7 separate regions of the Homo sapiens genome follow, and regions 1, 2, 3, 4, 5 and 6 are each reported to be linked to region 7. Evidence: microRNA targets listed by miRTarBase, many of them from high-throughput screens and not tested one by one. Region 7 holds a microRNA gene; each other region holds the end of a gene's coding sequence.
Evidence for each region. The annotated mature microRNA hsa-miR-3202 reads UGGAAGGGAGAAGAGCUUUAAU and lies in region 7 at 1,961-1,982, shown strand. An mRNA with a match to its seed (bases 2 to 7 or 8) in the 3' UTR can be bound and repressed. Matches are read on the target gene's strand: a 7mer-m8 pairs with bases 2 to 8, a 7mer-A1 pairs with bases 2 to 7 and ends in A, and an 8mer does both.

Region 1: the mRNA of G3BP1 is a reported target of hsa-miR-3202. Seed matches in the 3' UTR shown: 7mer-A1 at 321-327.
Region 2: the mRNA of PPP2R2A is a reported target of hsa-miR-3202. Seed matches in the 3' UTR shown: 7mer-A1 at 2,685-2,691 and 7mer-m8 at 2,588-2,594.
Region 3: miRTarBase lists LCE1B as a target of hsa-miR-3202. Seed matches in the 3' UTR shown: 7mer-m8 at 3,318-3,324.
Region 4: the mRNA of MARS2 is a reported target of hsa-miR-3202. Seed matches in the 3' UTR shown: 7mer-A1 at 3,418-3,424.
Region 5: miRTarBase lists C20orf96 as a target of hsa-miR-3202. Seed matches in the 3' UTR shown: 7mer-m8 at 2,709-2,715, 7mer-m8 at 2,662-2,668 and 7mer-m8 at 2,657-2,663.
Region 6: the mRNA of ABLIM1 is a reported target of hsa-miR-3202. Seed matches in the 3' UTR shown: 7mer-A1 at 3,306-3,312 and 7mer-m8 at 3,942-3,948.

What each region holds. Positions count from the first base shown.
Region 1 is chr5:151,803,062-151,807,206 of GRCh38, reverse strand. G3BP1 (G3BP stress granule assembly factor 1) reads right to left here. Exons shown (of 12, transcript NM_005754.3): 12 at 1-3,322. The coding sequence ends at 3,116. Among named protein-coding and RNA genes, the nearest start is that of G3BP1, 33 kb to the right of the region's middle.
Region 2 is chr8:26,369,266-26,373,410 of GRCh38, reverse strand. PPP2R2A (protein phosphatase 2 regulatory subunit Balpha) reads right to left here. Exons shown (of 10, transcript NM_002717.4): 10 at 731-3,277. The coding sequence ends at 2,998. Among named protein-coding and RNA genes, the nearest start is that of BNIP3L, 12 kb to the left of the region's middle.
Region 3 is chr1:152,812,025-152,816,169 of GRCh38, reverse strand. LCE1B (late cornified envelope 1B) reads right to left here. Exons shown (of 1, transcript NM_178349.2): 1 at 3,062-4,145. The coding sequence starts at 3,723. The coding sequence ends at 3,367. Among named protein-coding and RNA genes, the nearest start is that of LCE1B, 2.1 kb to the right of the region's middle.
Region 4 is chr2:197,706,829-197,710,890 of GRCh38, reverse strand. It overlaps MARS2 (methionyl-tRNA synthetase 2, mitochondrial), which reads right to left. Exons shown (of 1, transcript NM_138395.4): 1 at 2,496-4,062. The coding sequence ends at 3,704. Among named protein-coding and RNA genes, the nearest start is that of MARS2, 3.5 kb to the right of the region's middle.
Region 5 is chr20:268,369-272,513 of GRCh38, forward strand. It overlaps C20orf96 (chromosome 20 open reading frame 96), which reads right to left. Exons shown (of 11, transcript NM_153269.3): 11 at 2,495-2,899. The coding sequence ends at 2,839. Among named protein-coding and RNA genes, the nearest start is that of DEFB132, 13 kb to the left of the region's middle.
Region 6 is chr10:114,433,691-114,437,671 of GRCh38, reverse strand. It overlaps ABLIM1 (actin binding LIM protein 1), which reads left to right. Exons shown (of 23, transcript NM_002313.7): 23 at 1,299-3,981. The coding sequence ends at 1,412. Among named protein-coding and RNA genes, the nearest start is that of AFAP1L2, 31 kb to the right of the region's middle.
Region 7 is chrX:153,978,985-153,983,129 of GRCh38, reverse strand. It overlaps MIR3202-2 (microRNA 3202-2), which reads left to right and starts at 1,954; the gene lies at 1,954-2,032. It overlaps TMEM187 (transmembrane protein 187), which reads right to left. Exons shown (of 2, transcript NM_003492.3): 2 at 1-1,280. The coding sequence starts at 1,067. The coding sequence ends at 282. MIR3202-1 (microRNA 3202-1) reads right to left here and starts at 2,033; the gene lies at 1,953-2,033. RefSeq lists an enhancer at 2,547-2,656.

The DNA.
Region 1 (4,145 bases), not on the chromosome of region 7:
GTGAAAATTAACTTTTCTAACCTAAAGTGCAATTCAACTAACACTGTGGTAATGACATACTCAACCAAAGTCAAATTATTATTTTTGGATTATCTATCTCACTGGTCCCTAGCAATATCTGACAAAGTTGAGAACGCTGGAATACACAAAGTAAAACCCAACCTCACCACTAAAACAAAAATACAGTTTAAGGCCCAAGATGTCTAATTACAAATTAACAGGTCTTAAAAAACTAAGACCCACTGAACCAAACAAATCTTATCTAACTAAAATACTCATGAGGCCAGGTGCAATGGTGCACACCTGTAGTTCCGGCTACTTGGAAGGCAGGAGAACTGATGAGGCCAGGAGCTTGAGACCAGCCTGACAACATAGCAAGACCTTGCCTCTATAAAAATAAAAATTTAAAAAAAAAATCTCATGGGTCAAGAGTTCTAAGCTCAGTAGCTAATAACTATACATTGGGCCATTCCTACGGATGAAAATTTTCATTTTAAAATCTGAAAATGTTCAATGTGATGAGCTCCTACTGCTGCCACCTATAGAAAATGTTGCCCTAACTTATAATGATTTTCCAGCAGTGGAAACGTATACATCTCTAAGCTCTCAGGTTTACTCTACATGCAATAATGTACATAATTGTACAAGGATTCTCAACAGTTCTGATCATGATGCTAATCCTATTTCTTAGGTCCAATACTATCATTCAAAACCTCACAATCATCCCAACTCTGATGACAGAAAGCACTGGGGAAGCTTTCTATTTTCTGAGATTGTGCAGTAATTCCCTGCAACAAATTACAAGCAGCATCAGTATGTATTGCTACCACCTCTCCACATTTACACCAACATACACAACACACACATACATTTGGTACAAATAATAAAAAGTGAAATTACTAATTCCTTAGAGTAGATGTTACTGCAATTCTTGAAACAGATTTCCATTTCCTAGTTTGTTATTTATCTGAGGCTGAGTTTCAAAAGAATGAGTCTTCATTCCAGTTTTCCTAATCCCACAGCTCCACCCACCCACAGGAATAGGGACTATCAGTGTTCTCAATGGGGTTGCTTCATTTTTACACAACATTTGGTATCCTTAGACCCCACCCAATAAATGCCAGATGCATGTCTCTCCAACAACCCTTCCAAATTTCACACATTTCCAAATGTCCTCTAGTATGTGATAACACCAAGCTGAGGATTGCTGCATCTAGTTAATGCCCTTAAGTCTCCAAGTAGGAAGAACTTCTGTTTTGAAATGTATAATTTAGTATTCACTCATGAAGGATAATTTCTAGGCTATCCATAATTTATGACCTTGAAGTTACCACAAAGTAATTTTTTTTTCCAAAGTGACTCAGACTAAACTTTTCTTTCCACCCACCACATGCTTAATATAAGCTACAAAAGTATAAGTTGTATTTCTTCCTATTATCAGTGATCTGGGCCAAAAGTGGTTACCAAAGTTACTTTAACCCTACAAAAAAGCCATGTGATTCAGTTACATTAAGTTTATGTAAAGGAGATGCTGCCAATTTTCAAATATTTGAGGAACTGGAACCAAACTGGTAATACCAACTTCACTGTGGTCTTAACCATCACAGCAAACCTAGAGTTTCTCAGTAATGCAAACCAAATATTCCTATGCTATCCTCAAACGACAGTCCTAAAGATGAATACTGTTAAGAAAATAAATACGCTGAATTTTACAACCTGGTTGCCCTTCAATTAGTAATGACAATCACACAAAAGTTTGTTTCACACGTGTAAACAAAACCTTCACCCATCTCACACACAGCACTCAACAAATAACACATATGTGAAACGAGTATTAGTCTATATTGCCAGATTAAATTTTCTTCCAGAAATATTTTAATAAAAATTGGCCATTTCCAAGTAACACCCACTGCATGCCCATCAATAAAAGAGAACCATAACAAAATAGAAAATTTACCATATGGCTATGATTTTAAGAAAAAAAAAAATGCGGACACGAGCACATGAGCAAAGTCCAATATTAAAGTAACATTCCTTCTTACGGGCTATGATTAGGAATCTGATTAGATACCAGAATAAAAATACAAATGCTGAACTATTTAGGTCAAAGAACCTCTATAGAAGCATCTGTCTTCAAAGGCATTCCAGTTTGAGACTCAATTTTAGAATAAGGCATAACAAATATGTTAACAAAAGACATACACAAAGTGATGAAAGAGGGATTCTATAATTCCCCACATACTCTGAACCTAATAAAACAAATCTAGATTTTTTTTTTAAACAATTGCCAAGACTGAAATCAAAGATAAATAGAAGGCACAACAGTTTTGCTCTGGTTGTTATCTGGGTTTTGGGAATTTTTTTGCTTTTTGTTTTTTTACAAATACAAATTAAACATGAAAAAACTACTTCAAAAAAACTAACAGTTCAAGAAAAGCCTATCAGTTGCATTCTAGACATTTAAAACCTATTATCACAATTTAAATTTCAATGGTAAAAACAGTTAGGTTTTAGAATTGTTTTGTGATCCTTTATCAAAAAAAAATTCTATTCCTTTTATTCAGTTTTTAAACATACCAGTGAGAATCAAAATTGTCAAATTTTCCAATGGCAATTTCTCCACACCAGAAGGTAGTCATGACTCTCAAAGAAGAAACAATTTGGGTTTTTCCTGCCTTCAAAATATTATCAAATCCTGTATTTCTTACAGGCTTTTCAAACACGTAGAAAATAAGAAATATTCCAATGAATGAAACATACCAAATGTCAGTAATATGCAAGACATTCCTTTGGGGAAATGGCTGTAAAAAAAAAAAAAAAATCCAGTCTGTATATGCAAAGTAAGCAAGGAAATTCAGTCTTTTTTTTTGCTTCTTTAAAAGTCCGTTATTCCTAAAATATCATTCCACAAAATTGGAAGTGAAAGACTAAAGGTCAGGAAAGGGAAGAGAGGGAGAGGGAGCACACACCATTAACACACAAAAAAAGTAAAATTATACAAACTTAAGCAGTTTATAACAGACTGGGGTCATACTCCAAGATACCAAAGGCTGTCGAAAATTCACCATTCTGTTGGAACCAGGGTTTGTATGGCTGCATGAAGATCCATGAAGATTCACTGCCGTGGCGCAAGCCCCCTTCCCACTCCAAATCCTGGTTTCTGCACCATGCCTCCACGGGGAGGGCCTCTCATTCCACCACCCAGCCCACCTCGAGGGCCTCCAGGTCCCCGAAGGCGATTATCTCGTCGGTCGCCTTCCCTGGCAGCTCGAGTCTTCTTCTCTTCGACATTCAGACGGACCTCACCTCTGAACATGATGGGCTGTAAGAATCAAGGTGACCAGACTTAAGAGTACTGATGAGCTGGCTATCACTATCAAAGATAAAGAAAGCTGTAATAATGAACCAGCAGAGGCTGGGCACGGTGACTCATGCCTGTAATCCCAGCACTTTGGGAGGCCGAGACGGGTGGATTACGAGGTCAGGAGTTCAAGACCAGCCTGACCAACATGGTGAAACCCCGTCTCTACTAAAAAAACACAAAAATTAGCCAGACATGGTGACACACGCCTGTAGTTCCAGCTATTCAAGGAGGCTGAGGCAGGAGAATTGCTTGAACCCAGGAGGCGGAGGTTGCAGTGAGCCAAGATCACGCCATTGTACTCCAGTCTGGGAAAAAGAGCGAGACTCCGACTCAGAAAAAAAAAAGAACCAGCAGATTATAAATCAGCTAAGTTCTCACAGTTCAGTTTTTTGTTTGTTTTTTTAATGAGACAGAGTTTCACTCGTCACCCAGACTGGAGTGCAACTTGAACCCGGGTGGCGGAAGTTGTGGTGAGCCAAGGTCGTGCCACTGCACTCCAGCATGGGCGACAGAGTGAGACTCCGTCCCAATAAAAAATAAAAAATAAAAAAAATTGCCACCTTCTCCATAGATTTGGAGGCTTAGAATAAAACCTCATCATCACCAGTGTGAAAAGATGGTACTGTACATATTTATGCAAAGTACATATACATTTAAAATAAAAACTTCATTAATTTGACATAAACTTTAATTTGCTCTTTAACACCTCCTGAGAATTTTGGATAGTCTTGGCCTTCGTTTCCTCCTAACAGAGCCAAAGTAGTTAAGGGGCTACGAAACA
Region 2 (4,145 bases), not on the chromosome of region 7:
CTGCATAGCTTTCACATGTGCACAATTTCCTAATTAACACCTTACTCAAAAGTCACACACTGAAAGAACCTGCTTTCCTATCTCTAGCTTTCCGTAGAAGTATCCCTAACCAGAATAACTCACATTTAAGGTTTAAAAAATTCTCTTCATTTTGAAAGGAAAAGAGTGCATGGACGCATTTTTGTTTGAGTCGGCGTCTCGCTCTGTCACCCAGGCTGGAGTGCAGTGGCGCGATCTCGGCTCACTGCAACCTCTGCCTCCCGGATTCAAGCCAATTCTCCTGCCTCATCTTTTGGAATAGCTGCGATTAGACACGTGCCACCACACCTGGCTGATTTTTGTATTTTTAGTAGAGACGGCGTTTCACCATGTTGGCCAGGCTGGTCTCGAACTCCTGACCTCAGGTGATTCACCCACCTCGGCCTCCCAAAGTGTTGGGATTACAAGAGTGAGCCACCGCGCCCGACTGGATGCATTTTTTTTAATCCCAAGAGACGGAGGGCTGCACAGAAGCTTACCATCCAGCAGTTAATGGTTACATAAACATGTATTTAGACAGGTTTATAAAACAATTCTTATTGCCCAGCCACTAAGTAAAGATCAAAAGAGGTTAATAGAATGAAAGTCCTTTTCCTACCCACAATCTCTTCTAAAAGGTTAAGTGATGGAGTATGTGCATGTATATTAGTGGCAAGAGAATAGGAAATACAAGCAACTTGACAAGACTAAGTTTATTCTAAGTATAATTTTTATTAATAAAAAGATTAACCATGGCCATGTAAAATGAGTGGCTGGGCTTAGAGTTTGCTACACCAATGAAATTAAAAAATTAATACTTGAGAATGTTAACAATAATTTATAATAGCATTCCTTGATAGAGGCATTTTAATTTTAGCAATTATTTCTCTTAAATATATAAACTAATCCTTAGTGTCATGGAGGAGAATCATCATAGCTACTGATCAATCAAAAAAGAATTTCTGAGAGCTGTTTGGTGGTGTTATCTCAAGACATACAACCAAGCTGTAGGAAAATCTCCCAAAAAAGATCTGGAAAACTGTCCAGTCACAACACAGGAAGAATATCACTGTTTGACACTTGTGGCAGGGGAATATCCCACTTGCAAGTCAAGCGTGAAGAATAAACACAAATTAAGAATGTACCCAAGATCCCCAAATAAATTAGTAAAAGTGCCATTAAGAATTATCAGACATAGAATGTGTTTCAAATACAAATTTGTTAAATCCAAAAGATACAGTAATTTTATTACATAAAATTTCTCCTGTGTGCTAAAAATGCTAACTTACAAGACATAATATTTGTAGTAGAGGGAATCACGGTCGGCTCGTTGAATTCTTTTTCATTATTGAAGAATAGAACAATAGGTAGTGGACATAGAAGCACTCAGAGTCCTCTGAAATTCAAGGTTGTTACATTATGTTCCACCAAAATAAGACTACCATTCTCTAATAATATAAATGCCTGTTCATTTCACCTTTCAAAAATAAAGTCCATTTCTTCTCCATTAAAGTTTCTGCAAGACTGACAAAGGTACATTCTACCTATTAAAAATAGGAGCACTCTTCATCTTTGGATAATGTATCACCGCTTAGGGAAAATGTATTCATATACAGATTTTTATTTGAGGCAGCTGTTGGAGTTCATTAAGCACTTTTTGAACGCTGTACCTTTAAAAATTTGTCTTTCATATAGCTTTGGAAAACCAAAAATAGAAGAAAAATATCTATGGTAAAGTATATTTCATTCTGATTTGATAGCAGTAAAATACAAAAAAAGTATTTAGTGCAGTGTCACTTGATGTTAGTTTTCTGCTATTTTATATGACTGAATAACAAAAAAGTTCTAACTTGTTAAAAATGTTTTATAAGTCTTTGACTATTTAGTAAGGCAAAAATGAAATTAAGCACTCTAAAAAGTAGAAATTAAGTTCTACAAATTTGGTTCCCATTTACAACAATTTCATTAACACATAATGAGTTAAATAGAGACACAATGTATCCAATACCCTCATGATGGTAAAAAAAAAAAAAAAAACTAGTAGCATTTATAGATTGTGAAATCCTTAATAAAACCTATATTCAAAATATGTTCATAGAGAACCAATACCTCTCCTCCTGCATGTAAAAGAACACTTGTTAAAAATAATTAACAAAAATACCAATAAACAATGAAAACCCATTTTGTTTCACTGTGCCCAAAGGTATGACACAAAATATTGGCTACAAGAGGTAGGTTAAAAAGAAAAAGAAAACCAGATTCTCCATTCTTTGTCACTTTTATTCAGTAGTAGGTTTTTTTTCCTTATTTTCAGTGCCAGACACGGCGAGGAGTGATTACAGCCAACTGTTACTAAAACATTTGTTTGCAACATATACCCCCTTTATACCACTGACCCCAAACTGACTCATTTTGTGTGCTTTCATTCTTTCTTTTTTTAATATACCACCACCAAGACCGGGTGGAGGGGGCAAGGGTAAGAGATGAAGGGGAGCAGTCCAGGAGGCCAGAAGAGGAGGAATGCTACAAGCCACAGTAAGAATGAGCTGTATTTAATTTAAAAAAAGGGGGAAGGGGTGTACCCCACAAATGATACAGTAATGAGGATACACAATTAAATCCCATAGCATGACTGAAGGCTTTCACTGTGTTTGACGTCATCACAATGGAAGGCATAAAAAGTGGAGTAAATCAATGTTGATACAGTCCAATCTAGTCCATTAGGCAAGATGGTGCAAGAAGTCATTTAAATTAAAAGTGCCCTACCCTTACCTAAATGGCTAGCAGACATGGAGAACACCACAGTGATGAATCCACAGAGCTTTCTCCATGTAGCTATAACAATGTGTTGTCGAATGGCACACTGTCAAACACTGGAAAGGGGCGCCACAATGGACCTCTCTCTTTTATAGGAACGAATGCTAGATTCAACTATCTCAACTAAGCAGGAAGTGGGTTCTTCTGCTAGGAATGCCAACCCTAATTCACTTTGTCTTGAAATATATACAGATTGTTTGTAGTAGCTACGGCAATGATATTTTCCTTGGGGTGCCAGGCTGTGTGAAGGATTTTCTTATTGAAGTCTAGGCTGTCAACACTTATTTCATCTTTCTTTCGCTTGCCACTTGCACAGACTTTGCGAGGCTTCAGAACTGTGCGAGGCTTATTGTTTTCCCGCGATGCTTCTAGGGTTATGTCTCGCTTTGTGTTTCTGTCAAACATTCTGAAGAAATTATTGTAAGATCCAGTCATGACAACACTGTGAAAATAGACAGTACACTCAGTCAAACAAGCAGAACAAGAAATTGTTTTCAAGTAAAATGATTCGGCAATTAAACCATAGGAAGCTACTTCAAAAGCAGATTTAAACTAAGGGACAGGGGCTGTTGACATCAACTCAATCACTAGAATAAACCAGAAATACGGTACTAATTAACTGGGTTTTCTGCTTATTCTTTTTATGGCTACCAAAACTATCAGCAAAGTTGACAGCATCCTCAAGTAAAACTTCTTAGGAGTGCAGAATTATCGTTGTTAAGTATTTTTGCAACTACAGGCTATGTGATCAACCAGGCCAGCCAGCTTCTCAAAGGAGCAACTATCTGTGGAACTCACAGGTTCTAAAACAAAAGAACCCCGCATGAAGTAGCTGTAGCTGTTCACAAGAAACCAATGCTTTATCTTATGATTTACATTTTTTGGGCCGGGCGCAGTGGCTCACGCCTGTAATCCCAGCACTTTGGGAGGCCAAGGTGGGCAGATCACGACGTCAGGAGATCGAGACCATTCTGGCTAACATGGTGAAACCCGGTCTCTACTAAAAATACAAAAAAAATTAGCCTGGCGTGGTGGCAGGCACCCGTAGTCCCAACTACTCGGGAGGCTGAGGCAGGAGAATGGTGTGAACCCGGGAGGTGGAGCTTGCAGTGAGCCAAGGTCGTGCCACTGCACTCCAGCCTGGGCAACTGAGCAAGACTCCGTCTCGGAAAAAAAAAAAAATTAGCTGGGTGTAGTGGCACGTGCCTGTAGTCCCAGCTACTCAGGAGGCTGAGGCAGGAGAATCCCTTGAACCCGGGAGGCGGAGGTTGCACTGAGCCAAGATTGTGCCACTGCACTCCAGCCTGGGT
Region 3 (4,145 bases), not on the chromosome of region 7:
CCACTCAAAACCTTGTCTCTTATAAGCATTTGATTAGAAACATCCAATAGTGATATTTTGCAAATCCCTATAGCCACATTTACTATCAGTGTTCTCTTCACTATGGGAAATAGGGTTCATTAGTGCATTTAAATCTAGTTAGGCTAGAAAACAAATTCCAGAAATCCCAGAACTCATTCAGAAAACTTGTCCTTAAGATTCTATTCCTTTAGATTCTGTTATGTTTTGGTAAAGTAAGTGTGAGCAAGAAAGAGAGAAAGAGGACTATTTTGCAGCATTGGTTCAAGTGACTATCAGGGATGGAAAAACCAAAATTTGTAAGGAAGGATGGCAGGATGCAGATTCAGGGGAGAGCTGATGTTGCAGTCTCAAGTCCAAAATCATTCTGAGGGCAGATTTTGTTTTAACTTTTTATTTTCAGTTTAGGGGTACAAGTGCAGGTTTGTTACATAGGTACACTTACGCCATGGGGGTTTGTTGTACATATTATTTCATCACCAAGGTACTAAGCCTAATACCCACTAGTTATTTTTCCTGATCCTCTCCCTTCTCCCACCCTCCACCCTCTGACAGGCCCTCTATGTGTCCACGTGTTCTCATCATTTAGCTCCCACTTATAAGTGAGAACATGCAGTGTTTGTTTTTCTGTTCCTGTGTTAGTTTGCTAAGGATAATGGCCTCCAGCTCCATCCATGTCCCTGCAAAGGACATGATCTCATCCTTTTTTACAGCTGCATAGTATTCCATGGTATATAGGCACCACATTTTCTTAATCCAGTCTATCATTGATGGACATTTAGGATGATTCCGTGTCTTTGCTATTGTGAGTAGTGTTGCAATGAACATACATGTGCATGTGTTTTTATAATGGAATAGTTTATGTTTCTTTGGGTATGTACATAGCAATGGGATGGCCGGGTTGAATGGTAATTGCTGGTCTTTGAGAAATTGCCACACTGTGTTCCACAATGGCAGAACTAATTTACACTCCCACCAAGAGTGTATAAGCATTCCTTGTTCCTGGAGGCAGAATATTTTTTCCGTCTCTGGATATCAGTCTTTTCTCTTAAGACCTTTGACTGATTGGTTGAGGCCTGCCCATATTATGGAGGGCAATCTGCTTTACTCAAACTCTGCTGATTTAAATATTAGTCGCATCTAAAAAAAAAACATGTTCACAACAACATTTAGACTGGTGAATGGTGCTAGAGCAAGATCTAGGAACCATAGCCTAGCCAAGTTGACACATAAAATTAACCATCACATATGTACATATTTTTGCAAATACAATGGCAAATAAAATTCAAAAAGGCTGGGCACAGTAGCTCACACCTGTAATCCTAGCACTTTGGGAGGCTGAGGTGGGTGGATCACCTGAGGTCAGGAGTTCGAGAACCGCCTGGCCAACATGGTGAAACCCCATCTCTACCAAAAATACAAAAATTAGCAGGGCATGGTGGCAGGTACCTGTAATCCCAGCCACTTGGGACGCTGAGGTGGGAGAATCGCTTGAACCCAGGGGGCTGAGGTTGCAGTGAGCCGAGATTGTGCCACTTCACTCCAGCCTGGGCAAAAGAGTGAAACTCCATTTAAAACAAGCAAACAAAAAAAATTTCAAAAAACATGTTCAACTTTACTGATATTCAAACAAATGCAAACAAAATAAAAAAGAAATATCTTGAATTTGAGAAAGGAGACTAACAGATTTATTTACTTATTTCAAAATGACAATTATTTTAATGACTAACAAAATAGTATGTGACAGTTGGTAATAAACATATTTTGAGATGGCAATGTGAATTGGCATAACAATTCTGGATAGCAATTTGATACTTATTGAGGTGTAATGAGTTTAAATTTATAATAAGCAAATCTTTTTACACAAAAACATTGTGTTATAGGAATTTACCTGAAAGTAGAGTTATAATGTAGGAGAGATAAATGGATAAGGATGGTCATCACAGGAAATTAGATATAATAAGAGTTCAACAAGAAGAAATTGTAATGGCCTTCCTTCAAGTAGTTGTGTTGCAGGACATTGCTGATTTTGCTCAGGACCCATCCTCACCACCTCTCTTTGCTTTACATATGTACATAGACTCAGGGTATGAGATAAATATATTTTAAAAAACTATACTCAACAATACCAGCAACACTATAATAATAATAACAGTTTTGTAAAAGAACATCAATTATACTAAAAAAGTTTTGGGAAAATGTTTGAAACAAAATAGATGTTTAGGCTGGGGGCTGTGGCTCACGTCTGTAATCCTAGCACTTTGGAAGGCTGAGGTGGGCAAATAACTTGAAGTCAGGAGTTCAAGACCAACCTGGCCAACATGGTGAAACCCCATCTCTACTAAAAATACAAAAAGTAGCTGGGCGTGGTGGCACACACCTGAAATCCCAGCTACCTGGGAGGCTGAGGCAGTAGAAATGCTTCAACCCAGGAAGTGGTTGTTGCAATGAGCCGAGATGGTGCCACTGCACTGCAGCCTGAGCGACAGTGAGACTCCAACTCAAAAAAGAAGTTTAACTATTCTCTCCTTCATAAGTTTTTAATTCAAAGGAATAAATATTAAATTTGCAATAGAGAAAGCTGGCAGATCAAGTGGTCAAAGTTGTATCTCCAGGAATGGGACAATTAGACATCATGTAAGGCTTGATATCATGCTCTAAGGACAACATCACTTTTGTAGGATATTTGCAAAAATGTGTAATCTGAGCCTGGTCAAGAAGAAACATCAGAGAAACCCAAATTGAGGGGCATTCTACAAAACCAATAGTTCTTTAAAAAGGTCAATGTCAAGGAAGACAAAGAAAGACTGAAGAGCCATTTCGGTTTGGAGGAGACTGAAGAATCATGGCAACTATGTCAAGGCAATGGAGATCCTGGATTGGATTTTGAACCAACAAAATTGTCTTTTGTTATAAAGGATATTAGTAGGAAGATTGGCTAAATTTGAACAAGGTCTGTAGATACTAACATCTTGGGAGAGCCTGGAGATGAGGACAGAGTATGAAAAGCAATGAAAAAATAACAATCAGTCAAGGCAAAAAGGAATGCATATTTCTGGTTTTATTGTTTCACATCAGGCTGAGCTATGCAAAAAGACAAGCTGCAAAGGGATATAGGTCTGTGCTTTGGGCTTCCCAGAGCAACCACACATACGCAAACTGAGGTCATTAAATGGCTTGGCTTTGGGGGAGAAGTTTTGGGCCTCTGAACTCCAAGACAGAAGAATCCTCTATGCTTGAGTTGAGCCCTCACCAAGACCTCTCAACAACATGGGCAGGCCCAGAAGGAGAAGGAAGACGGAAGGGAAATATTTGGCCATTTGTGTTCTTCTAGGCTCAGGATCCACTTTAGCAGCAGCCTCCAGAGTGCTGGCCACTCCCTCCTCCACAGCAGCTGGAGCCCCCGGAGGGCTGGCTGCAGCAGCCAGAGCTCTGGGGTCTGTGGCAGTGGGACCTACGGCGCCTGTGGTGGCTCAGGCAGCAGCCACCTCCCCCAGAACTGCAGCAACCCCCAGAGCTGGAGCCACAGCTTCCCCCAGAGCTGGAGCCACAGCAGCCTCCGGAGCTGACACTGCAGCAGGAAGAGACTGGAGGACACTTAGGGGGACACTTTGGGGGGCATCTAGGGGTGAGGCACTTGGGAGGGCACTTGGGGATGCACTTGGGAGGGGGCTGGCACTGCTGCTGGTTCTGCTGGCAGGACATCTTGGTGCGGGTGTTCAGGAGCTGAGAGAGAGTCAGACAGCAAGTTAGACCCAGGTAGAGGCCACCCCGGCCTATTCTTGCCCTTTCAGCATCATTTCTAATCCCTACATTTTGATGAACTGCTTAGTGTAGTTGTAGCTAATTAATCACGGGAAGTTTCATTGTGTCTAATAGTTGGCTAAACACACTTATAGCCTCTGTTTTGAACCTAATGCTTTTTATATACTTATAAAATCATAAAGCATTTTCAACTATTTTATAATTAGAAAACCGAAGCCAAAAGATATTAAGAAAGTATTCTCAAAATCAAGCATGTAGTATGTAGAGGAGACATTCTGCTTCAACTACACACCTGAATCATGAAAACAATCTAGAAAGGGGTTTGGAAATAAAATTGTTTCTCAAGGGGAAACAGTCATTCT
Region 4 (4,062 bases), not on the chromosome of region 7:
ATAATACATATTATATTATATGTATTATATATATACATATTATATTATATATGTATCATATAATACATATTATTATTATACATATAATAATATGTATAATAATAATAATAATCTGTCAATAATCTGTCAATATGTCTACACCCTTTTAGGTCCATTGATATTCACTTTCTGACAAAAGACAAGGCAAGGACCCACCAGCACTCCAGGTCTCACTTCATGATGATGTCATCCTCATTGAGGGCTCACAACCTGACCAACTACTGGTTTCACTTCAGTTTTGACATTTCCCAGAGCTAAAGAGCTAACCTAAGTCCCAATCACAGGTACAACCACCTTGGGGGGTGGGGGGAAGGGGGAAGACCAGTGTCCCAGGGCCCATGTTCCAGCCTAGGCCCTTCTTAAGTACTCTGACATCAACTTCATATTCAATTTATTGGGCTCTTCATAGACCCTACAAAGTCCACAGATTCTTAAGAGAAATAATGAGGTCTACATGCAGAATAAACTGAGGTTTCAATAAAATCAGAGATTATATCTATTTCTTATGCTCCTTCTTATAGCCATAGGTCTTCTGTCTAATCTATGAGTTCACTTGTGAAACAGCCCTCCAGTATATAATGGGGCAACTTAAAATGTGCATTGCCCACTTCTCACATGACTTCACAGAGAGGATTATAGTCTGCTGAGTGAGTTGACGTCTTTTTATTACTCTCCTAATGTGACATCCATGAATACCTGATCTAGGCAGTGGTCTTTCACCTCCTGCAACGCTGCTTCCAGGAACACACCAAAATGAATATTTGAGGACTTCAAGGATAGTATTTGGAAGACAGTTACTTTCTGGCGAAGGAATCCAGAAAATGCCAGATAAAAGTATTAACAGTGCTAGAGTAGGGAATTCTACAAGTGTATCATTTTCTACCAGAAGTGGTTAGGATGCCCCCTCTTGGAAGTACATCCCCTTCAGTTTTCACGTATTCTCCATTTGCTATTCTTAAACTTCTGGACCAACTCAAACACATCACTAATTATTCAAAGAATATTTGCTGTATCTATTGTGCCTCCTATAGAGAATCCAACTGGTTCATCTTCAGGATCACCGCAGAAGTCAGATCCAACTTACCACACATTCCTCCATTTAAAATACCCTGTCTTTGGAAAGTCAGGCCTCTGCACCAAAGCTAAGCCATCATATCCCCTGTGACCTGCACGTACACATCCAGATGGTCGGTTCCTGCCTTAACTGATGACATTCCACCACAAAAGAAGTGAAAATGGGCTGTTCCTGCCTTAACTGATGATATTACCTTGTGAAATTCCTTTTCCTGGCTCATCCTGGTTCAAAAGCTCCCCCACTGAGCACCTTGTGACCCCCACCCCTGCCCGCCAGAGAACCCCCTTTGACTGTAATTTTCCTTTACCTACCCAAATCCTATAAAACGGCCCCACCCCATCTCCCTTCGCTGACTCTCTTTTCCGACTCAGCCCGCCTGCACCCAGGTGATTAAAAAGCTTTATTGCTCACACAAAAATAAATAAATAAATAAATAAATAAATAAATAAATAAATAAACAAAATAAAATATCCTGTCTTTCTAATAATTACGCCCTGTCCTATCTGGTTCCCCTATGTTCTTGTGTCCTCCAGTATCACAAATATCCAGGTAGCCAGCTAAGTGCCTGCACAAATGACAGACTGCACTAAAAGAACTCCATTGACACCCTCCAGCAAGCAAAGGTCGATTGTATTGACCAGCACAAGGCTATAGGAAAGATCATTCAAGTAGAAGACACTGTCTCCATCCATGGTAGGAACTGTAACACTGCTATAAGAGCACTTCAGAGGCAGAGGTTATCATCTCACTGGTTTTCAAATATGTTTTCCTTCATCCACGTAAATACATATTATCTTTTTCCACTCTCTGCTCTATCCACCTGTAGGAGATATTACACTCCTACATCCTATGCCCCAGTAGTCTGTGCTAATAACCCCAGCAGTTAACTTGAACATGTCATGTGGAAAGCCCAGACTTATGAATAAGAAGGGTCTGAAGGGACATTTGTGGCAACAGTCCTTCCACCTTTAGAATACCTTCAAGCATTCTCTTCTAAGCAATATTCCAGCAACCAAAAATTCCTCATTTCGCTGATTAATAAACAGAAACTGGAACTGAATGGTGGCACCTAGAATAAATCCAGGGGAACTACCAGTACAATAGTTTAATTCATTGTGGGCCCTCTCTACTTGCTACCATACTTAGAATGTATATTCCAAGGCAAGTTCTCATTTTGAACTTTGGCCCAGCTGTCTAATCACCTATGAGACATAACTGGCTTACTATGTTGTAATCACTGTATAAATTGCTAACATCTTCTCTGTGATGTTCTCTTATGGAGCCTTAGAGAGATTCCTAAATCCAGTCTGAGATTCCTGAAGCATTGGTCAGTTCCTCCTTTCACCATCACCTTCAACGAATGCAACAGAACAGATCTGAATAAGGTACTTACGAACTTTTAAACTTTAATAACTTAAGTTAAAAGAGCAAAAGAAATAATCAGTTAAAATTACCTGAAAGTTGTGTATTAACATTTATAATAACTATTACACAATTTCTATATTGTATTAAAGATCCTGATTGACCAAAAGAAATCATGAGGTAAATTATGCACATGGATAACAAAATTAAGACTATAAGAAATATAAAGAAAACATTGCCCTTTTGAACTATTTACAAATTTTTAAATCATACCTGTAACCTAATGTTACTAAAGTTTAAAATTTTTAACATACCAAGTGCCTCAAGAGTTTTATAATTTATTATATAAACAACTTGATACATTTACTTATTCACTTATTAAACATTTAACAGAGTAAATGTCATTTTTCAGTAGTCTGAAAAAGAACGAGGATTCTGATAAGTTTGGGGGGGTTTTTTGCTTTCCATTAAAACAATAGTGGTTGCAAAGCTATCCCTTATTTTAAGAAAAGCAATAAAAATGTAAAGATCTGCAAAATTAGAAAGCAGAAAACTAATTTATTCTAAATATTCCGAATCCTCAATCTTTAGTAAGTAAATGTGTGAGATTAGAGCCATCTACCGGTTGAAGTGTGATGTTACACAACCCAACTGTTGGACTATTAACAAAGCAGGGAGACTTAGTTGTAGGAATTTAAATGGGGATACACATGGGCAAAAATCATCTGGTCTAGGACACTGGTTCAAGGGTTTAATAAAATACTCTCTTTTTATCAGGAAACCCAACATGTGTAACAAAGTAGGATCCCCCTGTAAAACCACCAGTAAGGGGCCTCCAACCCTGACCCTCAAAGAAAGGAGTCACTAATTAGCCTGAGAAGCAGAGGCCAGGCCAATGAAAAACCAGCCACGAGAGGTAGTTTGGGCAAATAACTGTGGTTTGGAAGGAGGCACAAAGAAGGAACAGCATTAGCAACACTGTCTCTTACCCATCTTTCCCCTGAAGACATCTTAGACACACAATGCACAAAGGACAGTGATCAATGGTCACAGAGAAATGAATAGGAGCAGGCACCTGAAAGGCTACAAACCTCTTTTCACAGGGACACAGCTTATGTGCTCATTTGATTCCACACTTAAGAAAATACTAGTATAACTTTCCTGAAAATAAAAAATAAAAAGATAACACATTTGCTTTTTTACCACAAGCCGGTAAGAACTGAGTTTCTAGGTCCGGTGGGCTTTCACCAGCCAAGTCCTGGACTGGTCTAGTCTTGGAAACAAAAGCCCAGTTTCAGGTCCCAGCCTCCTCCCTTCAAAAGGGCATGGATGTCCATAGAATCGAGGCAAGAAATAGAGCTCTCCAAGACTCCTCTCTGAGGCAGAGACCCCCAGCCTAGACAGCAGCTTGTCAGCTAGGCTTGGGGTGACAGGCTGCAGCAAAGTCCCAAAGACTCGCAAACATTCCAAGGCCACATGAAGCACAGTACCCAGCCAGGGAGCATCCACTGGGCTCTCCCAGTTCAGCTTCCATGGTGCATGCCTTTGGACAAAACCATTAGTTTGCCGGACACAGCTGGACACGG
Region 5 (4,145 bases), not on the chromosome of region 7:
TATGTGTGATTTTTCAGCCCAAACACAGGCAATGACAGGTTTTACCTGGCAGGCCTCACAGCTGAGTCGTGCACAGCTGATGCGTTGCAGTCTTTAAAGACAGTTGCAGACACAGACTCAGGCCTCCTGGACAGTCGACCTCTCACACACATCTCCGCTCCCAACCCAAGTCTTCATTCAGACACGTCTTCATTGCAGTGGGGTAGGCCTTCGGCCAGGACCTCCTTATCTTGGGGAGTGGAGAATCCTTGAAGACACTTTCCTCCATGCTGACTCAGAAGTTTTCCCACTCTCCCTTCCCCACCCCATCCCTGGCCCCCAGGTCCGTACAACTTCAGGAGCCTTTTTGTTGGAAGCTTTTCTGCAGTGAGACCAACCCCACACCTGTGCTCATCCACCCGACCCCAGTTGGCATCATTCTATGAGGAAATTAGAACAGGTGGATCTGTGTTCTACAAAATAAAACAAACCAGGTTCTCTGGTTTAGCCTCTTTCTTGTACTGTAATAATAAGAGATTTGGGGCTTGGCTATTACTTGCTTTGACTTTTTTTGTTTTGAGACAGGGTTTCGCTCTGTCACCCAGGCTGGAGTGCAGTGGTGCGATCTCGGCTCACTGCAACCTCCGCCTCCTGGGCTCAAGCAATCCTCCCACCTCAGTCTCCCTAGTAGCTAGGACTACAGGTGCACACCATCATGCCCAGCTAATTTTTATATTTTTTATAGAGATGGGGTTTCACCATGTTGTCCAGTCTGGTCTCAAATTCCTGAGATCAAGCAACCCACTGGCCTCAGCCTCCCAAAGTGTGAGGATTACAGGCCTGAGCCACCATGCCGGGCCATCATTAATCAGCTACTCCAGCACTTAGCAGTTCAGCTCTCTCCTGCTCAGCTGAGCTCCTGATTGTACAGTGGTTAAGAGCAAACTGCCTCTGCCACTTAGTAACCTGGTGACTTGAAAAATCACTTTGCCTTTTCATCCTTTGGTTTCTTCATCTGTAAAATGAAAATAACAATAAACAATACCTACTTCACAGGGTGGTTGTTGTGAGGGTGTAGTGAGTTGATGTATGTAAAGCATAACGTAGGTTCCATTGAAGTGTTTGCTATTGTGTTCAACAGGGTCCATTTCTGCTTGGAGATCCACATGGCTCTGGGGAGTACCTGTTGGCTCAGCCTAGGTCACGTGTTCCACCTTAACCATCCCTTCCCTGCTCCAAGGTAGAGCCCGTGACCTGAACTAAACCAGCAGGCACGCTCCACCTCCAACACCGGCTCAAGGTGGGCGTGTAATATAAGCTGGTTCAATTAGAATGAATCTTTTTTTTTTTTTTTTAAAGACGGAGTCTCATCCCCCATCACCCAGACTGGAGAGCAGTGGCACAATCTCAGCTCACTGCAACCTCTGCCTCCCAGGTTCAAGCAATTATCCTGCTTCAGCCTCCTGAGTAGCTGGGATTACAGGTGCCTGCTGCCACGCCCAGCTCATTTTTGTATTTTTAGTAGACACAGGGTGTTGCCATGTTGGCCAGGATGGTCTCGAACTCCTGACCTCAAGTGATCCACCCACCTCGGCCTCCCAAAGTGCTAGGATTACAGGCGTGAACCACTGTGCCCAGCCCAATTACAGTGAATCTTAATACACTGGCTGAAAATTCTGGGACACAGCCAGTCTCTCTCTTTCCAACAGGACATGTACAAGGACCTGTACAACCCTGGGAGATGCTGGCATATTGGGGCCACAAGCAGTGCTGACCTGAAGAAAAGGGCAACACCTCAGAAAACAAAGTAGATAAATAGAAACCAAGTCCTTGGTGCCATCACTTGATTTCTGGACAAAGCCTCACCTAAGCTATTTATTGACCTGAGCCCTTCATAGTTTAGGCCAATGTGATTTGGTTGTTTTGTTACCTGTAACCAAGTATCTTAACACAAAGTGGATCTGTGAGTGACCAGAGCCTCTTGGGGGTTGTAGCAATCTAGTAGTTGGCCCAGAAAGGCCAACTCTGAGATGGAGTGTAGGGTGCAGAATGTTGAGTAATGAGTGCTCTTGGAATCAACAACTGAGGAAGACAGAAATATGCAGGATTGGGCACAGGGAGAAGTTCAGCTGCAGTGCAGGCCCAAGGGTAGTTGCAGCTGAGCCTTCAGGAAGTTCTGGAGCCAGAGTAGCCCTTCTGAGTTGTTCCAAGCACTGAAGGCCTAGCAAGTTCCAGGGGTATTAAAATCAATAAGCCTGTCAGCCCCGACAATGCCCTCAATAGGTCTGGGCACAGATTGGAGAGAAGCTGGGCTCCCACTGCACCAGGAGGGAGTGGCCCAGAGCCACTGAGCCATGGAGACTCAGGCAGGGGGTTGCTCCAGCACTTCTTCTGGAGAAGTTTTGAGCCCCAGATGCAGTTAGCACAGTTGCCCGCCCCTTATCATAAGACGAAGTCCGTTCCCACCACATCTTCTGCAAGACCTAGCTGGGGACCCCGAGACACTGGCAAAAAAGCAAATGTAAATCCAGCTTTATTGGTAAAAAAGGAATAGCAGATTTAATCAGAAATTCCCACCTGGCCCAGCAGCACCAACCAGAAAGAAGGGAAGAAGAGAGGAAAAAACCACAGGAAGAAAGAAAGGAGGGAGGGAGGGAGAGGAGGAAGGAAGGAGGAGGGAAGGGAAGGGGGGAAGAAGGGAGGGAGGGAGGGAGGGAAAGAAAGAGGGAGGAAGGGCAGAGGGAGCAGGGAGACTGTAGATCAGGGTCTGAATGGAGATCCGGTCCTGGAAGTAAATGATCCAAGGCTCCAGGTGCTGGGAAGAGAGCAGGAGGGGAGGGCGGCCCATGGCACTGCCATCTAGAAGGGTAGTGGCTCTTCCACAGGAATGTTGAGGATGACATCCATGTCTGGGGTGCACCTGGTGGGAGGCAGCACAGAAGGCCATGAGAGACCAGAGGTGGCGGTGTGGGAGCACCCACTCAGAGGAGCCCTGCTCTTTAGAACTCTGGTACGTACTTGGGTTGGGGGGCAATCCCAAAATACAATCTGTGATCTATCTGTGACCTCAAAGCCCAACTGTGCATACACAAGCATACACACACACACACACACACACACACACACACACACATACACACACATCAAAAATGGAAAAGAAATGAGTTTGGCAGGACAAATGTTCCCCTGACAAGTCTGAGGTCAAGAGGGAGCAGGAACTCAGCTCTGAAATGCTGAGGGCCCTCAAGATGATCACTGGCTTTGGAGTGAGGATGACAGGTTTGATAACTTTGACCTGTGTCACCTTGAGCAAGCTATTTCTACTCTCCCAGCCTCACTCCTTCAGTTGGCACTTAAGTGAAAAGCACTCATTAAGTCCCAGACCCCAAGTGAGCCTCAGTTTCCTCATCTGTCAAATGGGTTTAATATTCTAACCTCAGTCATTGGTGGAAAGATTAAATGAGACCATGCCAGCAGGTAATAAGTGCTCAGTAAATGACAGGCATTATTATTTCCATGAAAGTAGCAAGAGAGATGGATTCCCATCAGCAATATATTCCCCATTGCAGGGACCAGCACAAATATTTAAGAGGCTGAAGGATTACATTCTGTTTCACTCTCTTTTCTCTCTTCCAAGGAGACCATCCTCTCTCATGGTTTCAATAATCTGCTGATACACATGAAGTATTTAGGCAGGAAATGTCAGGATACTTGCAATTTACAAATACTATTAAAAAAATGAACATGAAACCAACATAGAAAAAAAAAAAATTTCTAAATCTAGATGGGCAAAACTGGCTATTCATTATATCATTCTCTCTTCTTTATATTTGAAATTTTTCATAATAATAGTAAAAAAAAAAAGTTCATCTCTATGCTGGCAACACCTAAATTTCTACTTCCAGCCAATATCTGTCCTCTGAGGTCTACACTCATCTTGTCAATTGCCCACCCAATGACTCCACCTTGGCACCTCATATAAATCAAACTTACTGTCCAAGTCAACTGTATGGTTTTTGTTTTGTTTTGTTTTGTTTGAGACATGGTCTCACTCGGTCACCCAGGCTGGAATGCAGTGGTGCAATCACAGCTCACTGCAGCCTGGAACTCCTCAATCGATCCTCCTGCCTCCCAAATAGCTGGGACCACAGGCACGTGCCACCACA
Region 6 (3,981 bases), not on the chromosome of region 7:
TTCACTTAGATCAGCATAAAAATGCCTGGTAATATCCAGAAGAATGACCCAGGAGGTGGGCATGGTGGCTCACGCCCATAATCCCAACACTTTAGGAGGCCGAGGTAGGCAGATCACTTGAGGTCAGGAGTTCAAGACCAGCCTGGCCAACACGGTGAAACCCTGTCTCTACTAAAAATACAAAAATTCACGGGGCATGGTGGCAGGTGCCTGTAGTCCCAGCTACTTGGGAGGCTGAGGCAGGAGAATCGCTTGAATCCAGGAGGTGGAGGTTGCAATGAGCCAAGATCACACCACTGTACTCCAGCTTGGGCAACAGAGCCTGACTCCGTCTAAAAAAAAAAAAAAAAGAAAGAAAGAAAAAGAAAAAAAGAATGACCCAGGAGACACAGAATGATTTCAGTCATTTTCTTTGAAACTTGATGTTGCCATAATTATGGCTGGTAATTCAGAATGGGAGTCGCTATTTCTCTTGAGATAGTCTCAGATCCTTATCTTCCCCTGAGCTGGGGTTGAGTTCATGGGAGGCTGTGGGAGCGGCAAAGGCTCTCAGGAGAGACATTTATACTGATTTATACTGGACAAGTTTCTTTCTTGGCTGTTTCCACATTCCTTGTTGAAGGGTTATCTGGGTACATGTACCCAAGATCTCCTTAGACATGGAAGACTAATTTTTGTATTATAGTTTTCCATCCCAATGATTTTAATTAAGAAAAACCCTGGCTGCCAGTCTCCGAAAGAATGCTTACTTTTTCCTGACAAAAGGCAGTACCTTGGCGTAGAGGTACAGAGAATAAAGGCTGCAGGATCTTGGGGGAACTTTTCTAGGGGGGAATGACTGATGGGAAGTCTTCTCAGTAGAACAGACATCCACCTTACCCCCTATTCCTCAGCCAGGAGGAAGCCCTGGGGCTCCCCAGGGACCACGCTGGAGGTCATTTTCTTTGGCTTTCTATTGCGATAGTCCATTTTCCCTGCATCTTCTCAACGTTCCAAGGACCTGGGATGGAGTTGTCTCCAATGTAATAAATCACCTCTCTGTGTCCCATCACCAGTCAGTGTTATTATTATAATCCCCATTAATACTCTGCCAGCTCTTTTATCTGATGGGAAGGGCTCCTCACCTGGCCCAACCAGGTAAGGGATACTGATGTCACAAGCATTAAAGATGGGCTCCTCTCCCGTCCTCCTGCCTTGTTCTTCAGAATGACTCTGTATAAACTATAGAGCAACGCTCAAGGCCATTTGTGTGGCCATCAGGACTGACAGCAGCTCTTTTTTTTTTTTCTTCTTCCCAGCGCCACTTAGCCCCTGAAGTGTTTCGGGAAATCTTTGGAATGTCCATACAGGAGTTTGACAGGTTACCTCTTTGGAGACGCAACGACATGAAGAAAAAAGCAAAACTCTTCTAAGTCCCACTCGTGAATGGCAATTAGAGAAAGGACTGACAGTGGCGGTGCCCCATAGGATGTCATATTGAGGCCCAAACTTGATTGGAGAATTTGCAAACTACCGTCGCTCAGCAACACCAAAAAGAGAAAGTCTGGTTAAAACACCATGAGTCAAATGTCGGGCCAGCCAACAGTAACACTTGCCAAGAAGCATGGCGTAGAAATTTCTATGTTCCGAAACACAGAGTAGTGTCCACATGTGAGCTTTTCACATTACCTTATGTATACAACAGGAGCTGCGTTGTTTTCTTCTTTTTCTTTTCCTTTATCTGTTGTCCAACAACAGTGCTGACTGTCCGGATAAGAGCTGGCAAGTGCCCTTAGGATGCCGCATGGGAAAAATCGGTTATCATAATTTCAAAGTATAAATATATTTATTAAGTAGCGCTGCGGCTAAGAAGGAAGAGTGAGGGGTCTGTCCATGGGGTGGCAGTGATTTCACACCCGCCTTTCTTGAATGGCTTCGTGTTACTCAGCCGTGCCCTGGCAGGAATGGAACTCCATCAGGGAACAGGGCAGCTCTGTTTGAATGGGGTGAAAAACAGCAAAATTAATTCTTAGCAAGCTCCTTGTTCTCTACTGTTCACCGGGACCTGGCTGGCAAATGACTTAGCTATTAGTATATTTAAAAACTGTTCAAAAGCAAAAGAGAAGGAACAGGAATGAAAGGAAACCTTCCCTTAACTCTTTCTGCTTCCCATAGCAGGTCTGGTTCCTGCTCCCCGCCTAGGACAGGAGCTGTCTGGAGCTCCACCTTTGCAAAGAAAGGAAAAACACAAATTGCCCCCAGATTGGCCCAGTGGCATGCCATTAGGTGATTTTGCATAGGGGCCATATCATTCATGGCCAAAAAAAACCAAAAAGCAAAAAACAAAAACAAGTCCCATGTCCTACTGACTCTAGTTCTTCCAGTCGTTATCCTCTGCTGTCTCTCTGGCATCCTATGAATCAGATCAAGCCCATGCTGTTGTTGGTTTTTAAGGTTTCTTTCAATAATAGGCTAAGGAAAGACATGTTTTTCTCTTTTAAATCTCTGCAACTCCAAAGTAGACTCCTTCGAACGTATTTAATTTGGCCTTTTCAGCTTTCTTCTTGCCCAGCTCTGTCGAATTCATGGGTGTGTGTGCACATGTTGGTTTCACTCACCCAGAGTAATTTTGTGAGCATGCATGTGCTTTTTAATTTCTGCTTGAATGTTTGTCCTGCTGTGTTGCAGCTTCTAAAGACATTGTCACCGAGTGTGTGTGACTCAAAGATCAAGAGTGAGGCTAAACTGCGACCCCAACATCACTTCCTTCATGGAAAGGTGTTGGCGCTGATGTAGCTCATGGAAGGATCAGACTGGGAACCACAGAGGAAGGATGAGGTGGGATGTGGAGGTCAGAGCATCTCACGAGAGTCCCTCAGGCTCTGCAACACTAGATTCGAATATGAGCCTAGGGTTTCCCCAACACGTGCGTGCATATGAAACCACATCATGATTCCCGACGTGAGTTAGATGAGGGAGAGTTTGTGTAACTCCACACCCAGGAGGGTAAGCCACTTTATTATCATGCTTTGGGGCTGTGCTTAAGAATTTAAGCTCTGTTTTAAAGCCGAAGAAGAAAACATTTGAATTTACCTTCATATGCCACTAAGAACAAAAGCTCTGAAGTTCTTCCTGCTGGCACCAAATATTAGGATTACAAGCTGTCTCTCTGACACCAGTGGTAAAAAAGCAAGTAGAATAGTTTCTGAGTCTGTGTTGCAGCCTCTGACACGTGGCTCACCGCTGTCATTTGGGGGATGGAATGAACAGTCACTGTTCTATAGCATCCTCCTGTGCTCTTACCTAAGGAATCTAAATTGTCCTAGCCTTCCATTGCTATGCACTGAATGAGGACTACTCTCGTGTGTGTGTGTGTGTGTGTGTGTGTGTGTGTGTGTGTGTGTGTGTGTGTTGGATCTACTAACATGTTTAGCAAATGGCTCTGACAGGGTGGCCATGAGCAGATGAGACCAGCTCTTGCTTGGTTGGAAGCCACACTGCAGTTTGCAGTTTAGCCTTTGGTGTCTCAGTGGCTTCTTGCTTATTCCATGCTTTTTCTATCCCATCCTCTCTCTGTGCCCTCCTGCAATGGCAGCCTTGGCACAATGCCTGGGTGTCCTCATCCTTGCTTTACTCTGGAAAGTGTGGGGATGGAGAGGATGGTGCATTTCCAGTGCTTCCTTACCTGTCAATAACAATGGTGGCCACCTGGGTCCCAGCACTTGGCTGGTGGAGAGATTTTTTTCATTATGGAGCTAATAAAGGGTCCCTACGTTTTACATTGATTAATGAATTATCACCCAGACATGTGCAGATGAAATGTCAATATAAGAAAAATCAAGGTATTTGGGAAACATGGGCATAATCAGGTAGTTTTGCTAAAATTCCTCTTCCTTGGTCTACATAAAGAAGACATGGGTCTGTCATAGAATGGGGACATTAGACTGAAAACTGGGACAACCCCCTTCCTTATTTTATAGAGACTAGGAGTTAAGGGGCCTG
Region 7 (4,145 bases):
TTTGGAAACATTTCAAACTACAGAAAAGTTATGCAAATTACATCAGGAACACACACATCCCCTGTGCGGAGATCTGTGCTTTATGTCTTTGAAAGTAAGTTGTCGAGATCACAGCACTCCACCCCTCCACACCGAAGCCCGCAGCTTCTCAGGAAAGGGCAGTCTTGTGTGATCAGTGCATATCATCACACACAGGATGTCTGACACTGGCACCACGCTGCCATCTCAGAGTCCATTTCAATGCTGGGGGTCATCGGTTTTCAGCAGGTTCTTCCCTGGGTTCAACGCGTCTTCCCGCCAGAGGGATGGAATCTTGGGTGAGTGTTGAAATGCGTCAGAAACAAAAACGCAAAGTGGAACTGGAGCACGTCACAGACCTTGGACCAGAAGTGGCCTGTGAGGCACTGGAAGAGACGCCACCGTGCGAGCTGATGGTCACACAGCTTGAGGACCACAAAGCCCAGGCAAGAGAGCACCCCCAAAGCTAAGTAGGTAGCCGAGGTGGTGCTGCCATAGTGCCTGTGGGTGCGCAGCGCCTGCCCCACAGCGGCCACCACGTGAGCACCCAGTGCGACCTCGAAGCCCTGGGGATGCAGCAGAGCGAGGCCATAACTGGCCAGGGAGACGCACTCAAGAGAGAGGAACAGCCAGGGCCGCCAGCCGCGGTCTAGGTAGAGGCACCAGGCCACGGGCCATGCAAAGATGGGCAGTGTGAGCCACTGGTCCAGCACCGCGGCACGGCGCCACTGCGTCCACAGGCGCAGCCACTGCACGGGGCCATAGAGCAGGGCCATGGCTGCGAACACGTCCTTCAGGTAGCGGGGACCCAGCCCCATCGCGCCGCCCCTGTGCAGCCACGACAGCCCCAGCAGCGTGTAGGCCATGTTCACGAGTGAGTTGAACGGCATGGCCAGGAAGGCAGGGAGGCCGGCCACGGGCGCCTCGGCGTAGTGCTCATAGCCCACTTGCACGGAAACACTGTCGAAAATGCCCGTGAACACAGCCACGGCACAGAGGCCACCGGCCACGGCCACGTGCACGAAGGCCTGCCCCCACTCTGGATTCATCTGGAACCGGCGGCGTGACCTGGGGCAGGGAGCTTCAGAGAGCAGCCTTCAATACGCAGCCTCTGCAGAACACTCTGGGCCTCCCGGCTGAGCCAGCAGAAAGAAGCCCCGTGATTTCGTGATTTCCGAGGCAGATGCTGCGACCTTGCCCCGAAGGAAGGCAGGAGTCCTGCTGATTGGCTGGCGCCAGCGGAGGAACGTTCTGCCTTTTTCCTTTGTGGTTACAAAAGGAGTGTGGTTAGAAAACAAACCGTCCCCAGCACCGCCTCCATGTTCCTGACCCCCGGCCTCAGGAGCTACCAACCATCTTCACTGGAGAAGCAAATCAGAGTGAAACCGCTGCACACTGACTCTCTCAAGCCTCTAGAATCCTCTATCACCCCTTTCTCCTGGCACCTAGGAAAATCCTGCCCATCGTCCTAGTTTCCTTAAAGCCACTGCATCTACAGACAAGACCTGTCTAGCTCTGTCATTACAACTCAGAATGCGCCTTCCCATGTCAGTGTGTTATAAAAGTGGACGTCTCCAGCCCCAAAGCCCTTTTCACCAAATACCCAGCTGAACTAGAGACCATTAGATGGAGTCCGAGCTCTGGCCTCTGACACAAGGTGGGGGATGGAGGAGGAGGAGGATTCACCGTCTGCCACTCAAGCACCAGGCCGGGAGGCAAGGGGGTGACCCGCAGGCTTCCCAGGCCAGCTTCCCTGGCTCACTCGCCTGCCCTCTCCTGAAGTGCCAAGCCCCAAATCACCTTCTTTCCTCAGGCCACCATAAAGCCTTCTGTCTCCTTCAGTCACAGAACCAGAGAGACAATTTAATTACCACTGACTGTCAACTGCTTTGGGGCCACTGGTGCTGTAAGTGAGCCCTAGTAGCTGAGAAATACATTAATATGGAAGGGAGAAGAGCTTTAATGCTCTGAAAATGACTCCAATCATTAAAGCTCTTCTCCCTTCCATATTAATAAATTTCGCACTCAAGAGGGTGGGCGGGTAGGCGGGCTCAGGGAGAGAGAAGGGTGGGCTCCAGTTCCTGGTCAGCTGATGCCAGACTGTTCAAACCTTGGCTCTCCCACTTACTAACCATGTGATCTTGCACCTTAACTGTCTTGGGCCTCGGTTTGTGCACCTTTTTTTTTTTTTTTGAGACGGAGTCTCACTCTGTTGCCCAGGCTAGAGTGCAGTGGCACAATCTTGGCTCACTGCAACCTCCGCCTCCCAGGTTCAGGTGATTCTCCTGCCTCAGCCTCCCTAGTAGCGGTGATTAGAGGCGTGTACCACCATGCCCGGCTAACTTTTCTATTTTTAGTAGAGTTGGGGTTTCACCACGTTGGCCAGGCTGGTCTTGAACTCCTGACCTCAAGTGATCCACCCGCCTCAGCCTCCCAAAGTGCTGGGATTCACAGGTATGAGCCACTGTGCCCAGCCCGGTTAGCTCACCTTTGACCTAATCGCTTAGAAGTTCCAGGCCTGGGAGGGATCTTAGAAACCATCTGTGCCAGCCCCGGCATTTCACAGATAAAGAAACTGAAACTCTAGCAGTTTGACTTGGCTGAAAGTTACAGTGAGGAGGAGCAGAAACCCAGGCATGCCGCCTCCTGGCCCCAGGTGCTCTCTGCTCACCTCCCTGGAAGAAGCGCCAGGAGGGCTTCCACGTGGCTTCTTCCTTGCTTTCTGCTGCCATGGCCTGGGTATTTTTATTTAGACACGGGGGTCTTGCTCTGTTGCCCAGGCTGGGGTGCAGTGGCACAATCACAGCTCACTGCAGCCTCCACCTCCTGGGCCCAAGCTATCCTCCTGCCTCAGCCTCCCAAGTAGTTGGGACCAGGGATATACCACCACCTTGCCCTGCTAATTTTTTTTTTTTTTTTTGAGACGGAGTCTTGCTCTGTTGCCCAGGCTGGAGTGCAGTGGTGCGATCTTGGCTCACTGCAAGCTCCATCTCCCGGGTTCACGCCATTCTCCTACCTCAGCCTCCCTACCACAGCGCCCGGCCTGCCCTGCTAATTTTTGTTAAAAAAATTTTGGGCCAGGCATGGTGGCTCATGCCTGTAATCCCAGCACTTTGGGAGGCCAAGGCGGGTGGATCACGAGGTCAGGAGATCGAGAGCATCCTGGCTAACACGGTGAAACCCCGTCTCTACTAAAACAATACAAAAAATAGCCAGGCGTGGTGGTGGGCGCCTGTTGTCCCAGCTACTCGGGAGGCTGAGGCAGGAGAATGGCGTGAACCCTGGAGGCGGAGCTTGCAGTGAGCTGAGATCGCGCCACTGCACTCCAACCTGGGCGACAGAGCGCGACTCCATCTAAAAAAAAAAAAAAAAAAAAATTGTAGAGACAGGGTCTCACCATGTTGCCCAGCCTGGTCTCGAACTCTTGGCCTCAAGTGATCCTCCTGCCTTGGCCTCCCAAAGTCCTGAGATTACAGGAGTGAGCCACTGCACCCAGCTAAACCCCTCTTAAGTTGAAAGTCCAGTTCCTATATTTTCGACTTATGATGGGTTTATCTGGACATTACCCTGTTATACATCAAAAAGCATATGTAGCTGGGCATGGTGGCTCACATCTGTAATCCCAGCAATTTGGAAGGCCAAGGTGAGAGGACTGCTTGAGTCCAGGAGTTTGAGACCAGCCTGGGCAACAAAGTGAGACCCTGTCTCTACACAAAATACATAAAATTAAATTTAAAAAATAAAATAAAAATTAGCCAGGCATGGTGGTGCACCTATAGTCCCAGCTCCTCAGGAGGCTGAGGCAGGAAGATCACTTGAGCCCAGGAGATGGAGGCTGCAGTGAGCTATGGGCCACAGAGCAAGACCCTATCTCTAAAAAAAAAAAAGCTAGGCGCAGTGGCTCACACCTATAATCCTAGCACTTTGGGAGGCCGAGGCAGGTGGATCATCTGAGGTCAGGAGTTTGAGACCAGCCTAGCCAATGTGGTGAAACCCCGTCTCTACCAAAAATACAAAAAAATTAGGCCGGGCACGGTGGCTCACGCCTATAATCCCAACACTTTGGGAGGCAGAGGCGGGTGGATCACTTGAGGTCAGGAGTTCCAGACCAGTCTGGCCAACATGGT